2 separate regions of the Homo sapiens genome follow, and region 2 is linked to region 1. Evidence: fine-mapped expression QTL. Tissue or cell type: fibroblasts. Region 1 holds a variant in brackets; the other region holds the start of a gene. All regions are shown on one strand. Distances are from middle to middle.

What was found. PIP is the estimated chance that this variant, and not a neighbour inherited with it, causes the effect.
Region 2: it holds the start of TRIM2, and the variant in region 1 is fine-mapped to the expression of TRIM2 in fibroblasts (GTEx, PIP above 0.99).

What each region holds. Positions count from the first base shown.
Region 1 is chr4:153,229,101-153,237,282 of GRCh38, forward strand. All of the region lies in intron 1 of TRIM2 (tripartite motif containing 2), which reads left to right. Among named protein-coding and RNA genes, the nearest start is that of TRIM2, 29 kb to the left of the region's middle. The variant A/G (reference allele first, on the strand shown) is at 4,761.
Region 2 is chr4:153,200,218-153,208,399 of GRCh38, forward strand. It overlaps TRIM2 (tripartite motif containing 2), which reads left to right and starts at 4,226. Exons shown (of 12, transcript NM_015271.5): 1 at 4,226-4,343. The coding sequence starts at 4,314. RefSeq lists an enhancer at 5,777-6,682.

The DNA.
Region 1 (8,182 bases):
CAGACCTTGGAGAAGAAAGTATATTTTACTCATTTTTAACACAATTTCATTAAAGGACAAAGAAATTCGATTTCTTAGGGATTTCCTCTATAAGCATTTTTCTTGTAGTCCACATATATTGTTTCACTTAAACAAATATTCTGAATTTTTTTGTTTCGTTTTGACTTGTTTTGTTTTGTTTGAGACAGAGTCTCACACTGTCACTCAGGCTGGAGTGCAGTGGTGCGATCTCTGCTCACTGCAACCTCCGCCTCCCGGGTTTAAACAATTATCCTGCCTCAGCCTCCCAAGTAGCTGGGACTACAGGTCCCATGCCTGGTTAATTTTTGTATTTTTTGGTAGAGACAGGGTTTTGCCGTGTTGCCCAGGCTCGTCTCAAATTCCTGACCTCAGGTGATCCACCTGCCTCGGCCTCCCAAAGTGCTGGGATTACAGGCATGAGCCATCGCACCTGGCCAGATTCTGAATTTTTAAACAGTATCTACTAGAAATCAAATTCATTTTTCTTGTTAAAAAGCCTTTAAACATCAAGAAGGGGAAATAATTATTAAGCATTTGCTTGGAACAGTTGAAGTAGTTTCTGTAATAGAAGGAAGACAGATTTGCCAGGGTATGAAATTCTGAATCCCATCTGCACGGAAGCTGGTTTTCATTTGTAATGCAGTACAAAATATTCTTGGCATCTTTGGTGCTTATTGCACACAGTATACTCCATGCTAAAACTAAATCTCGATAGAACTAAATACATTTCTTTCGTTAGATTTTTTTTCTAAGCATTTTCTCTCGTTCAAGTCCCTTGGATAAATGCATTCACCAAGTACTGCCAGGTCTTTCTACCTCTGCAGAGTTTAGTCTTCAATCTTCCTTATTCAGCCAGTTCATTCAGCTACTATCTATTGATGGGGGCCGAGGGGGACAGGAGTTCACAGGCTAACCTGAGAGAAGAAGGCAAGGCACATACACCCCTGCCCGTGTCCTAGATCTGTCTTTCAGTCTCTAGGGGCCTAGGCCCTGGCTTTCTGAATTTTACACATGATGACTGCTACGGTACTTACAGCCTCAATACGTTTGCCATCCACACTATTTTTTTTTTTTTAAGAGACAAGGTCTTGCTCTGCTGCCCAGGCTGGAGTACAGTGGCTTGATCATGGCTCACTGCAGCCTTTGCCTCCAGGGCTCAAGCGATCCTCCCATCTCAGCCTCCTGAGTAGCTGGAACTGCAGGTGCATGCCACCATGACTGGCTACTTTTTGTATATTTTTTGCAGGACAGGGTTTTGACATGCTGTCCAGGCTGGTCTCCAACTCTTGGGCTCAAGCGATCTGCCTGCCTCCACCTCCCCAAAGTGCTGGTATTACAGGCATGAGCCACTGCACCCAGCCCATGTTCAGTCTCAAAACCAGTAGAATTCAGTTACAAAAACAAAAAACACACCAAACAAACACTTGTCTCAGGCATAACATATTACCTTGTTGATTTATTGTACCACAGCTGGAAATATGGGGACTGTCAGTTTCTCCTGAGAATCTGGGATACTGCATGCCTTAAGGGAGATTGAGGTGACAGTATGCTATCTGTCTTTTATTTATGAAGATAACCCTGTTGACCCACCAGGATATGCTTTGTAGTTTTCTCCATCCATCCTATCAATTTTTATTAGTTATGAAATTTACTGGCCCCTGTGGCACAAATCTAGAAGAACCAGCTCACTTGGTTCAAGCCTATAATTTCATCAACATAGCAGGTAACTAGCTGAGCTCACTTGGAACTGAGATCATAATAATGATTTAACCTCTCATTTGAGCAAGGCTTTACTGTTTAAAAATCACTTTCACAGAAATAATTCCATCTTATCTTGACAATGTCCCTGAGAGGTAACATCTTAGAAGCGAGGAAACTAAGTTTCCAAGAAGTCAAGTGACTTTTCCAGTAAAGGGGGAGTCAGGACTCACACCTAGGATGTCTTTCTCACTAAAATACACGCTCAAGTATACTTGATTGGTTGACATATGATAAATGGATACAAGAATTGTGGGAAGCTCTAGAAGAAAGGATGTTTTGTTGAGAAAACAAATCTAGGAAAGTGTCTGGAAAAGTGGTTTTCAATAGAGATTGTTTACTTTAAATTTAACTCTAGACCCAAGAATATCACATAGGAAACCATTAGGGAGTCATGTGAACAAGACAATCAAGTGTCAACTCATATGATACAGACATTAAGTACAATGATGGTTCAGAAAAGAGAGAGAACACAATAAGGTAATAAATCAAGGATAATATAATTGAGGAAGAGGGACTAAAGTTAGAACTTAAAGAATGTGCAAGATTTAGATGGAAGAGGGAAGTGGGAAGGGCACAATGGGCATTGGGAACAACCCAAGCAAAGGTGGAGAGTCATTTTCCAGACAGGGATTAGGAGCCAGACACATCTGATGGGAGGAGGGACTGAGCAGGTCTAGGCAAGGAAGTCGTGGGCATTGAGGTGAAATAAGGAGGTGGAATCAAAGAGGATCTTCAGTGCCTATTGGAGAAATACAGACTTGATGCTTAGGTGCTCTAAAGGGTGGCGGCATGAGGGAGAATCTGCTCCATGCCTCTGTCCTAGCATCCGGCTGTCCCACGCTTCCCTTGGCTTATAAATAGTGTTCTGTGTCTTCACATAATCGTCCCTCCATGCCTGTCTCTGTGTCCAAATTCCCCCTTTTTGTAAGGACATCAGTCATATTGGATTAGGGCCCACTCTAATGACTTCATTTTAACTTGATTACCTCCCTAAAGACCTACACTGTACAGGTTGAGCATCCCAAATCCAAAAATCTGAAATGCTCCAAGTCCAAAACATTTTGGGTGCTGACATGATGCTCAAAGGAAATGCTCATTGGAGCATTTCGGATTTCAGTCTTTTGGATTGCGGATGCTCAACCAGTCAGTATCTGCACATATTCCAAAATATGAAAAAAAACCAAAATCCAAAAATACTTCCGGCCCCAAGCATTAGGATAAAAGATACTCAACTTGTAGTATTTCCAAATACAGTCACAATCTGAGGTACTGGGAGACATCAATATATCTTTTTGGAGGGAGGGGGACACAATTCAACTCTAACAGCCACCTTTAAAGAGTCATGAGTAGCCAGGCGAGGTGGCTGACGCCTGTAATCCCAGCACTTTGGGAGGCCGAGGCAGGCAGATGGATCGAGACCAGCCTGGCCAACATGGTGAAACCCCGTCTCTACTAAAAATACAAAAATTAGCTGGTCGTGGTGGCGCACGCCTGTAGTCCCAGCTACTTGGCAGGCTGAGGCAGAAGAATCGTTTGAACCTGGGAGGCAGAGGTTGCAGTGAGCCAAGATCATGCCACTGCGCTCCAGCCTGGTGACAGAGTGAGGCTGCATCTCAAAACAATAAATAAATAATAAATTTTCAAAAATAAAAAAAATTGAGTCGTGACCAGCACAGTGAGAGGCAAAGAGGTGTTTTAGTGAGAGTGGACTGACCCCAGCATGCAGAATATGCTGGAAGGAAGGGAGGGAACTAGAGGCCATAGGTTGGGGCGGGGGTGGAGAAAAGTAGATAAAATCAAGACACATTTCAAAGGAAGAGTTGAAAAGATTTAAGTAGTAGCAATGGTAATGTGTCGTTAAGTCTAGAACATAACAGTTTACAGAACATTCCCATGTCTCCTTTCTCCTTTGTACCTGACTTAGGGGCTGAGTGGTGTCTTCAGGGTTTCTGGCCCTGGGAGAGAAGCTCCAGTGATAAGGTCAGCCACTCCAGTGAGAGTGGCTAGCAAAGGCAGCAGGGGGAGACTCAGAGCTGCAGGTGCTGAATTGGAGGTGGTGACAGAGCCGGGTGGAGCTGTCCCCTGGGCCACTGGAAACCTAAGCCAGCTGCCCCCTCTCTAGACATAGATTTGGAAGTCAAATGCATTCCAGCAGTCATCTAATCACAAGAGTGGGTGCGGCCTCTGAGTGAGTGAATGTAGGAGAAGAGCAGTGGCTTGATGTTTTGGCAAATTCCCGGAGTTAGAAGATTGCTAAGAATAAGGATAAGAAGCATTTAAAGTAGAGGAGAAATGGTAAAGTTCTCTACTTCCAAAGCCAAAGAAAAAGAGTTTCCAGTAGAAGGTGGGAGGAGAAGAGGGACGACTGGGAGAAGACTTTGGTTTAGCTAAAATGAGGACATGGGGAAAAGAAAGTGCCAAAGAAAGGAAGGAAGGAAGTCAGATGATAATTACAGGGTGGCAGGATTTAGAAAATGGTGTGGGGGGTTTTTATTGGAAAGTTGTGGGGTTTTCTTTTTGAGATATTGATTACTTTACTTACAGTCAAATTCACCTTTTCTGATGTTCAATTCTGTGAATTTTGACAAATGAATATAGTTCTGTAACCATGACTACTGTTGAGATAGGACCAATTATATCACCCCCAAAATTCTTTGTTGCTGAGGTGCTTTTTTGTTTTTTTAGAGGAAACCAATGTGTATTTGAAGTCAGAAAGGAAGAAACCCATGGGAAAGGAGGAGATGATGGTGTTAAAGAGGAAAGGGTTGAAGGAGTGAGGCGTGGAGGTGGTAGGGAGGCAGGTGGGCCACTGAGAATGCTTCAATTTTGGTGGGAAGGAACATTTCCTCTCTTCCTATGAAGTAGAAGGAAGGATGGATGCATACATTCAGGGTCTATGATATCTTTTTATGGTTAATTCCAAAACTCCTGCCAGCAAAACCATTTCCTGCTGAGAGAGATGTTAAATGTTGCATTGC[A/G]TAATTTCTGCCACGGAGGTATGATTTCCTGTTGCAATCACTGTTTGCAGGAATTACATGCAAGGGGAGTACAGGCACCGGGCTGCTTTGCTTTGGGATATGTGCCCAAATCCTGCTCTAATGTAATACCATAGCAATTTTAGAACTAACAACTTTAAAATTCTTCAAAGTTAAGTGCATCTGCATCTTTTCCTGCACCATACAGTGAGAAAGCTTGGCAGCAATAATGGCTTCAATCCCCATAAATACTCCTGACAGGTGTAAATGAGTCACTGCGGAAGAGCTAGCTTCCACAGACATGTCCTTGGGGCATTATTTGGCAGAAGAGATTGAATTCTCATCATTTTATGCTCAAGACTCACAACCACTCAGAAGTGCAGTTTTCTCCTTGACATCTATGATGTTGCTTGCATCTCCCTTTATCCTTGCAGTCACACTGTGATTCAGGGGTGGGAGGAAAGAAGGTGTTGGATAGCGATTCTCAAACTGTGGGCTTCATGAGCGGGTTGTGAATCAAGTTAGTGAGTTGCAGCCAGTTTACTGAAAAATGAAATAGAATAGGAAATAGCAGAGGGCATCGGGCTAAATGTGATCTCATGCAACCTTTGTTTCAGTGAAATATATGTATCTATTACTGGACTGCAACATAAAATACATTTCTGCTGCGGATCTCAGTCACAAAAGTTTGGAAACTGAATGTAGAAGTATGCAGATCCTTTATGACCCTAGGCAGGCTACTGAATGTCCTTGTGGCTTAGAGTCATTGTCTGTAAAATGAGGCTCATAAGTTACCTACTCTGTATGGCTGTTGAGAGTGTTAAACAGAAAATGCATAGGTAGCATTAGGTGCTGTGCCTGGTTAACAGTCAATGCTTGTGATGATGATTTGTTTTCCTGCCTAGATCTATAGGTCAAATTTTTATTCAATGCCCAGACCTTTCTTCTGAGCCTAGAACTATAACTCAGCAGCTATTTGACATCTCCAGGCAGTTGTTCTACATGCATCTCCAACTCAGCATGTCCAAAGTGGAACTCAATTAATTGCCACTTTCTCTCTCCAATTCTTAACCTTCCCCGTGCCCTGTCCCACCCTCGAGCACACAGACCCCTCTGCTGCCCCCAGCTGTGTACTTCATATGTGGTGCTTCCAAACTGCTTCTAGTTGGTCTTCCTCCACTAACACACATATGTCTTCAGGTTTCCTCTGCCTTGAATGCTTGTTCCACTTTTTTGTTGTATGACTCACTCTTTCCCATCCTTCAGGGCTTAATACAAATTGGTTTTCCAGTCAGAAAGATGTAGGCTTGAAGTCACTAATCATTGGTGACAGCTGTGTGACTCTGAGAAGCAAATTTCTGAAGCACTCAAAGTCAGTTTGTTCCTCTGTAAAATGGGAAAAGCTGTGCCTGCTTCATAGAGTTAAGATAATTTTTTTTTTTTTTGAGACAAGGTCTTGCTCTGTTGCCCAGGTTGGAGTGCAGTGGCATGATCACGGCTCACTACAGCCTTGACCTCCCGAGCTCAAGGAATTCTCCTGCCTCAGCCTCCCAAGTAGCTGGGACTACAGGCAGGCACAACCATGCCTGCCTAATTTTTTGTATTTTTCATAGAGATGAGGTTTCACCATGTTGCCCAGGCTGGTCTCGAACTCCTCAACTTAAGTGATCCACCTGCCTCAGCCTCCCAAAGTGCTGGGATTACAGGTGTGAGCCATGGTGCCCCGCCAAGTTAAGAGAATTAAATGAATTCTTGTGTGTATAGAATAGTACCCAGCACATACAGAGTAGTTAATAAATGGCTGTGATTCTTTTTCATTTTTAAAGAAGGCTCAATTCACCTCTTTCTAGAGCTTCTTACAGACCTGAATGTGTCAGGTTGTTGAAGAGCTTTGCAGTTTTGCACCAGCTATTCCTTCTGATCAGATTACCTTTTCCACACTTCTTCCTTTGACCAAGCCCTACTCCTCCCTCAAGGCTCAACCCAAGTGTCACCTCCTCCGGGACCCTGCCAACATCCTGTGCTCACCTCCATCAGAATTCTTGACCACCTAAACTATGATTACCTTCTTTCCCCCTAGATTCTAAGTCTCCTGAGGGCTCCATGTGACATGTGTCGTGGGAGGGATCCGGTGGGGATCAAATCATGGGGGCAGTTTCCCCCATGCTGTACTCATGATTGTGAGAGAGTTCTCTTGAGATCTGATGGTTTTATAAGCATCTCGCATTTCTCCTGCTTGCACTCATTCTCCCTCCTGCCACCCTGTGAAGAGGTGCCTTCTGCCATGATTGTAAGTTTACTGAGGCCTTCCCAGTCCTGCAGAACTGTGAGTCAATTAAACCTTTTTTTTCTTTATAAATTACCCAGTGTCGGGTATTTCTTCATAGCAGCATGGGAATGCATGGATACAGTTAAGGCCATCCCCAACATGGCTTCTATTGCATGTTCTAGCCTTTTCTTCTACTTATCCTCACCTTGTACCTCATACCATGGAAAACTAGGCTCCTTACTCCCTCACTGTGCCCCATACCTCATTTCCTTGTATGCCTATTCATGCTGGCTCTTTCTGTTTAGCCCCACAAACCCACTAAAGCCCTCTCAAATGCTACCACATGACAATTCTAGAACCTTTAGTGATCTACTTTTTTTAAACAAACAGTAGTAGTTGTCCTCAATTCTGCTTTGCATCCCACAGCAACCCACTATGGACTTTTCTTGTGGAGAAGATTGTCCTTTATACAGCAGTTTCTTTACATACTTGTTTTTTTATGGCAAGTTGTTTGAGTCTGAGGATTGTGTCTTTTTCTTTTCTTTTCTTTTCTTTTCTTTTTCCTTTCTTTTCTTTTCTCTTGAGACAGGGTCTCACTCTTGTCACCTTGGCTGGAGTGCAGTGGTACAATCACAGCTCACTGCAGCCTCGACCTCCTGGGTTCAAGAGATCCTCCCAACTCAGCCTCCTCAGTAGCTGGGACTATAGGTGTGTACCACCATACCTGGCTAATTTTTAAATTTTTGGTAGAGATGGGGGTCTCACTATGTTGCCTAGGCCTGGTCTCAAACTCCTAGGCTTAAGCAATCCTCCTGCCTGGGCCTCCCAAAGTGCTCATGTAATATGCATGAGCCACCTCGCACAGCCAGAGGATTATGTCTTAAACATCTTTGTAAACTTACAGTATCAAGGACATTACATTGCTTGTCTTTTCTCATAAGTGTTTGAGGAAACAAATAGAATTGAAAATCAGCTAGATTTGGTTGTGCTTTCTGCTTGCTAATTTAACTTTTGGGGGTTGGGGTGTGGGAAATTAAGGTTTAACTTGTCTTTTGACTCTTAAATATATTTCTTCTACATGCAATTGGAGCTGGAGTTGCTACATTTAGCAATTAGGCATGTAAACATTAGTACCATATTATAACCACATTGTTGT
Region 2 (8,182 bases), 29 kb before region 1:
ACTGTGCTCAGCCGGCCAGCTAATTTTTAAAATTGTTTTAGAAAAGGGAGTCTCCCTGTGTTGCCCATAATCATACAATATGCAACCTTTTGTGTCTGGCTTCTTTCACTTAGCATAATGTTTTAGGGATTCATCTTTGTTGTAGAACTTCATTTCTTTTTATGGCTGAAAAATATTCCACTGTATATAACCACAATGTGTTTATCCATTCATCTTTTGATGGACATTTGGGCTGTTTCCATCCTTTAGCTATTGTGAATAGTGCTGCTATGAATATGGGATGTACACGTATTTGTTTGAGCCCCCGTTTTCAATTGTTTTGGGTATCTATCCAGAAGTAGAATTGCTTGCTCATATGGTAATTCTATGTTTAGCTTTTTGAAGAACTGTAGAGCTGTTTCCCACAGCAGCTGAACCATTTTACATTCCACCAGCAATGTACCAGGGTTCTTGTTTCTCCACATCCTCCTCAACACTTGTTTTCTTCCTTTTTAGTAAGAAAAAAAAATATATATATATATATATATATATATGGCTATCCTAGTAGGTGTAAAGTGGCACCTCATTGTGGTTTTTTTTCTTTTTTTTTTTCCTTATTATTGTTATTATTTTTTAATAGAGACCGGGTCTCACCATGTTCCCCAGGCTAATCTCTAACTCCTGGGCTCAAGTGATCCTCCTGCCTTAGCCTCCCAAATTCCTGGGATTACAGGTATGAGCCACCACGCCTGGTCTCATTTGGTTTTTTGGGTTTTTTTTCTTCTGAGACATAGTCTTGCTCCGTTGCCCAGGCTGGAGTGCAGTGGCATGATGTCAGCTCACTGCAACCTCCACCTCCTGGGTTCAAGCAATTCTCCTTCCTCAACCTACCGAGTAGCTGGGATTACAGGCATGCACCACCACGCCTGGCTAATTTTTGTATTTTTAGTAGAGACAGAATTTTGCCATGTTGGCCAGACTGGTCTCGAACTTTTGACCTCAGATGATCCACCCAACTCGGCCTCCCAAAGTGCTGGGATTACAGGCGTGAGCCACCGTGCCCAGCCTCATTGTGTTTTTGATTTGCACTTCCCTAATGACTAATGTTGAGCATCTTTTCATGTGTTTGTTGGACATTTATGTATTATTCTTAGAGAAATATCTATTTAAGACCTTTGCCCATCTTTAGGTTGGGTTGTTTGTCTTTTTATTGTTGAATTGCAGGAGTTTTAAAAATATATCCTGGATACTAGAACCTTATCAGATATATTATTTGCAAATATTTTCTCCCATTCTATAGGTTGTCTTTTCACTTTCTTGATAATGTCTTTTGAAGCACAAAAGGTTTTAATTTTGGTTATGTGCTGTGGTTTCTGAGCACTAGGGAGGCCCAAGCAGGAAGATAGCTTGAGGATGGGAGGTAAAAGCTGCAGTGAGCTATGAAGCTATGATCTGGCCACTGCACTCCAGCCTGGGTGACAGAGTAGGACTTTGTCTCTAAAGAAAGAAAAAAAGAAAGAAAAAATTTAAAATTTTAACGAAGTCCAATTTATCGATTTTTTTCTTTTGGCTGCTCATGGTGTCCTGAAGCTTTTTAAAATGACAGGATCCTAACACTTGTGAAGGCTATGTCACGGGCGTGTCCTCAACCTTGGAAAAATAAACTTTCTAGGTTAATTGAGAGCTGTCTCAGATTTTCTGGGTTCACACACCTTAGAAGAAAACTAGATTATTTCAGGAAGGTAACCTGTACCTTAAAGTCAAAATTGTGAAAGTATGGATGTAACAGCTCTTTTGAAATAATTAGAAGGATACAAGGGCCAGAAGGAGCCTCATACATCATTTAGAAAAGGTTCTGGAGGAATTTTACTTTAATACAAATTAAACACCAGTGGCAGAATCATAAACATTTTCAAACTAATATAGATTAGAAAGGATGGCATTTGGGGATTATTATTTTTATAATCAGAAGGGCTTGAGAAAAAGTTTGCGGAAAATAAATACGTTTCAACATTTTTCTCTGATAATTCATTTTGACAACTACTGTGTTCATTTTGATAACTACTATATCACTTTATAAATGATGAAACTATTTCAAATGTAATGACTGTACTTTTCACAGTTTGTATGCCTATAATTTATGCAATGCCACACAATCAACCAAACAACTCTTAACTTTATTTTTACTTCAGTGTATTATTTAGAAATGATATAAGGAGGCCAGCCGCGTTGGCTCGTGCCTGTAATCCCAGCACTTTGGGAGGCCAAGGCGGGCAGATCACGAGGTCAGGAGATCCAGCCATCCTGGCTGAAACCCAACTCTACTAAAAAATAAATAAATAAATAAATAAAATTAGCCGGGCATGGCGGCATGCGCCTGTAGTCCCAGCTACTCGGGAGTCTGAGGCAGGAGAATGGCCTGAACCCGAGAGGCGGAGCTTGCAGTGAGCCGAGATCACGCCACTGCACTCCAGCCTGGGTGACAGAGCGAGACTCTGTCTCAAAAAAAAAAAAAAAAAGAAATCATATAAGGAAAAAAAGCCCTACAGTTTACTTTCTGGTTCTTGGTTATTATCAAAGGGCATTGGAAGGTTAAGCTGCTGTAATAGCTTTAAAAGGGGAATTTAAGGCCGGGCGCGGTGGCTCACACCTGTAATCCCAGCACTTTGGGAGGCCGAGGTGGGCAGATCACGAGGTCAAGAGACTGAGACCAGCCTGGCCAACATGATGAAACCCTGTCTCTACTAAAAATACAAAAATTAGCTGGTCGTGGTGGTGCGCATCTGTAGTCCCAGCTACTCAGGAGCCTGAGGCACAAGAATCACTTGAACCTGGGAGGTGGAGGTTGCAGTGAGCCAAGATTGTGCCACTGCACTCAAGCCTGGTGACAGAGCGAGACTCCATCTCAAAAAAAAAAAAAAAAAAAAAAAAGTGGAATTTAGTTAAGTTTGGGAGACAGAAAGAAGCCACGGCTCTCCTGCCTTCTTCCAAATATACTGAACTTCTGATATGTTTGATCAAATGAAATGCTCATGGTCTGGCATGATTATAGGTGCAAGCCTGTAATCCCAGCTACTAGGGAGGCTGAGGCAGGAGGATGACCTGAGCCCAGGAGTTTGAGGCTACAGTGCACAATGATTGTGCCTGTGAATAGCCACTGCACTCCACCTTGGGTGATATAGTGAGACCCACATCTCTACACACACACACACACACACACACACACACACACACACGAAGAAGAACATAAACACATCAAATGTGAGCCATTTTGCTGACTTGGGCATACAATAAATCCATATCTCTGGGTTCTAAAGATGTACCAATCTTGCAGTGAGCTGAGATCACACTACTGCACTCCAGCCTGGTCAACACAGCAAGACTCTGTCTCAAAAAAAAAAAAAAAAATAGTAGACCAGGCGCAGTGGCACACTCCTGTAATCCCAGCACTTTGGGAGGCCAAGGCGGGCGGATCACTTGAAGCCAGGAGTTCAAGACCCACCTGGCCAACATGGCGAAACCCCGTCTCTACTAAAAATACAAAAATTCACCAGGTGTGGTGGTGCATTCCTGTAATTCCAGCTACTCAGGAGGCTGAGGCAGGAGAATCACTTGAACCCAGGAGGCTACGGTTGCAGTGAGCCAAGATTGTGCCACTGCACTCCGGCCTGGGCAACAGAGCGAGACTCCATCTCAATAAATAAATAAATAAATAAATAAATAAAATAAAGATGTGCCAATCAAACAAGTGTTTGCTCTGTAGATGAGGTGAGTGCTCCTGATCAGATAGTATATTCAATAAAATAAGCATGTCATCAAACTAACTTTCTTGGCCTTTGTTCTTTGGTTGAAAAACTCCCGTTGACCTCATGAATACCACATTTATTAACCCCGGAAGACAACAGATAGCTAATGCAACATAAATATCTGTGGCTTTAAAAATACATATTATTATGTGTGCAGTCTACAAACACTTTCCTGAAATTGGTCTTCTGTGGGCAGTGATTTAAACTTTTCAACTTGGACGCTTTTCCTACTGGGGGCTGTAAAGATGATAACTCAGCCCTTACTCTTCAGTGTTTCTCATTCCCGTCTCCCCTACTTCGGAATGAAACACAATATCTTAAGCAAACAGAGCCCAAAGAGGCTGATCATTGGCTCTCATTGTCCCCTGATACTGTAGCCCCGCCCCTTTGGCTTGTGCTGACTAGCTGTTTATATTTTAGTAAGGGCCACCCTTTAACTCGGCAGCTTGATGACTATAATGGGCCCAGTTGTCTGCGGGCTGCGGGGAGCTAAGTCCCCAGATTGGAGGAGGCTGGCTCTGGTCTTCGATGCACAGGAGTGGCCGTTATGGAACGCAGGTAAGGACGCTTCTCAATGTGGGATAATTCTTTTTCTGGGCCAGCTGGTTAATCCGGGGCTGGGAGAAACAAGTTGTGATTGGGTTGCTACTTTTTCCTGGTTTTAATTTTTTCCCTGCAGAAGAGGGAAGGAAAAGACTGGGATTTGCTGACAAAGCTCACAGTGAGCTCTGTTAATCCAGGCAGGAAGGGAGTAAGGAAGCAAAAAATCGAGGGAGAGACACAGCTGGATTTGACACCAAAGCAACATGAATGTGGCAAAGCATAAGGCCAGTTCCAGTGATGTTGTGAGACTCAAATGCTGTTTTATTTCCTAACATAGGTAGTCACAGTCAGGAGCTTAGCTGGGCCTCTCCGGGGTTTCTGTAAGCCAGCTGCTAGCCGATGTAACTCAGTCGACCCCATTTGAAAGGACCTAATATCTGCTAGTATTTTCAAAGGGCAAACTGTAGTAGTCTTGCATGTTATAAATAGGTCTATTCAGAAATGTGGGAACAGTTTAGAGCAGACAGGAGACTGTAAAGTTTTACTGCCCCATAAAAGTGCTCAAAGGGTACTATGTCCCTCTGCCGTGCGACTGTGGAATGAAGAAATAGCCCCAGGTGAATAGAGCGTTTGTCCTTGACTACCCAAGTGAGAAGTCAGCAGAGCCTGGGGACGCCATGTGAGTCGGGGGTGAAGCCTGATGTGGGCTCAGCCAGCCACACCTCGGGGTGCTTGCTGGTTTCCGGGGTGTGAATGGGTGAGGGTGGAAAACCACTCAGGCACCGGTCTTTGGTGCCTGCTTTATCTCTTGGCTGGCCCATTCGGTGCTCAGTGAGGCACCTGTCGTAGCTCACGGGGTGCGCAAAGGGCAAGGAAAGGGTTGTGCTGTCATTGCGACCTGTAAGGTGGGGAGGGGGCTACAACATCTCGAGTCCTGGGAGTTGCTTTAGAAAGTCCTCCTCCTCCTGCTGAAAAAAAGAATCACCTACGGCAGCTTTGATCAGATAAGTTTCTGGTGAGCCCCGTGGTGTGGAGTCAGTGAACTTGCGGTTTGTGTTTGTTATCGACAGGAGCCTGATAAAATGAAAAGGTGAGGTTTAATTTTTACATAAAGCTAGAGGTGAACCATGGGACTTTAATACATTTAATGCTTTGAAAGTCTCCCCACCTCTCCAAATTCCCTCAACTTGTATCTATTATCTAGGTACACCTTGTTTAAAGCCACCATGCTGTTTGCGGATCCTGGAGGTATTAAGTCAGAATACAAAGGGTGTTTTTCAAATGAATTTGACGCCAAGCAACATGAATGCTTGAACCCATTGTATGAAAACAGGCAGTCTCTAAGTGAGGCCAGGTTCTCCTGGTGCGGTCCTAGAGCCCTGGAGAGGGATGAGTCACCCCACGAGGAGGTCCTGACAAGGAATGGAAATTCTGACTCTGCCAGTGAACTTTTGACTCTCCCAGGTGGGGTGGAGGCTCCAAAGGGAAAGGACAGGTGTGCATCATTCACCCTCCAGGCCCACCGCAGGCCTCACAAATCCCATTTGGTCAGGTCAATGCATTCTCACCTTCCCACCTAAGTAGGTGTCCCACAGTTTAACTCAATTCTGACACTAACTGCAGTGAGTGCAGACCCTGAGGTTTAAGGGCTCAGTCCTACCAGGCTGCCCCGACCTCAGAGGCCAGTTGCAGGCTGAAGGTTGTCACTTGTGCTTCTGACTAGCTGGCTATCCATGAGAAGTTCTCACGATCCTTCCTCAGGTAGATTACAAGCTGTGTAACTTTGTCTAACTTTGTGCTGTAAGTCAGAGATTGACTTCTTGGGGTCACTGTTTTGTTAGCATAGCTCACGGAACTCAGGGAGACACTTAATTCCATTTACCAGTTTATTATAAAGGGTATTACAAAGGATACAGTTGAATGAATACATACAGCCAGGTGAAGAGATGGCTAGGGAGGGTCTTGGAGCTTTCATGTCCTCTCCGGGCGCCACTCTCCCAGCGTCTCCATGTGTTCAGCTATCCAGAAGCCCTCCAGACCCGCTCCTTTGGGTTTTTATGGAGGCCTCATTACAAAGGCATGATTGATCAAACCATTGGCCATCGGTGATTGAGTCAACCTCCTGCCCCTCTTTGCTCCCTGGAAACAGGGTCAGGGGGTGTGTATGGGTGGAGTAGGGAGAAAGGGGCTGAAAGTTCCAACTCTCTAATCACTTGCTTGGTTCCCCTGGCAACCAGCCCCCTCCAGAGGCAATCTGGGAGCCCTCAGTCGTCAATCATCTCATTAGCATACAAAAAGGCTCTTTATCACTTTGTACATTCCAAGGGGTTTTCTTTCTTTCTTTTTTAAATTTGAGACAGGGTCTTGCTCCGTCACCCAGGCTGGAGTGCAGTGGCATGATCATGGCTCACTGCAGCCTTGACCCCTTGGGCTCAAGCGATCCTCCAGATCCTCCCGCCTCAGCCTACCAAAGTGCTGGGATTACAGGTGCATGCCCCCATGCCCAGCCAATTGCAAGGATTTTAAGAACTATGTGCCAGGAAGCAGAGACAAGACCAAATATATATTTCTTATTATAAATCACAATATCACACCTTCCTCATGATTCACACTTCAGGTCACTTACTCACTGTGTAACTCTGTGCAAGTTCCCTAACCTCTCTGTGCCCCAGTTCCCTTATCTGTAAAATTCGCTAAATTCCAGGAAGGGCCAGCCACACTGGTAGGCCTATGCGGTGCGGTGGCCGATGGGGGACAGACGACACACAGAGGCAGAAGCCAAAGAACACGGGTTTAAAAACAAGGGGTTAAGAGCAAGAGCTTTGATTCAGACGAACCTGGAGTCCAGCCTCACTTTCGTTGTTTTACTTATATGTTATTGGGCAAGTTACCAAATCTCCCTAAGTCTGTATTCCTTCAGCCAAATAATGGGATGACAATCTGTTTCACTGGATGATTGTGAGGTTTAAATGTGGTCATGCATCAAAGTTCCTTATACAGCACTCAGTGCACAGCAAATATTCAGTGAATATTAATTATTTTATTATGACTGCTACCAGCATCTAACGACAGTCCTAAATACCATCTAAGTTTACCAAATGTCTCTCTGATTTACTGGTGACATTGGATAAAGGAAATGCTAAGAGAATGCAGTGCAGTGGAAAGAAGGGCGGGCTGGACATCAGCGTTCTGGTCTCCATCCGGGACTGGCCAGCAGGTGGCTCTGGAAAAGGGAGTCCCTCAGGGTCACGGTTTTCTATCTGTCCTGAGGCATGATCTTCAAAGTCCATTCTAGCTTCTGTCTATGACTTTAGATCTGACAGAAATCTCCCCGGAGGAACTCATGAGCCGTAAGTTAAACATGGTTTGAAATCACCCTTGAGCTCCTTGCTGATCATGCTTATCCATGTTGAAGGCTCATCCAGGAATAATAGATGGGTCTTGTGTGTGGTTTGAAAAGTTCACTTCTGGCCAGGTGCAGTGGTGAACCCTGTAATGCCAGCACTTTGGGAGGCCAAGGTGGAAGGATCGCTTGAGGCCAAAAGTTCAAGACCAGCCTGGGCAACATAGTTAGACTTTGTCTCTAAAAAATAAAAATAAAAATTAGCTGGGCATGGTGGTACACACCTGTGGTCTCAGCTACTCAGGAGGCTGAGGCGGTAGGATCACTTGAGCCTGGGAGGTGGAAGCTGCAGTGAGCTATGATTGTGCCAGTCCACTCCAGCCTGGGCAAGACCTTGTCTCAAAAGGAAAGTACACTTTTTATTTTCACAGGAGGTAATGATACATTCAAGTTGGTTACTTTACACAAGAAGAAATTTGTGTAATTTCTTACACAAAGAAATTACACAATT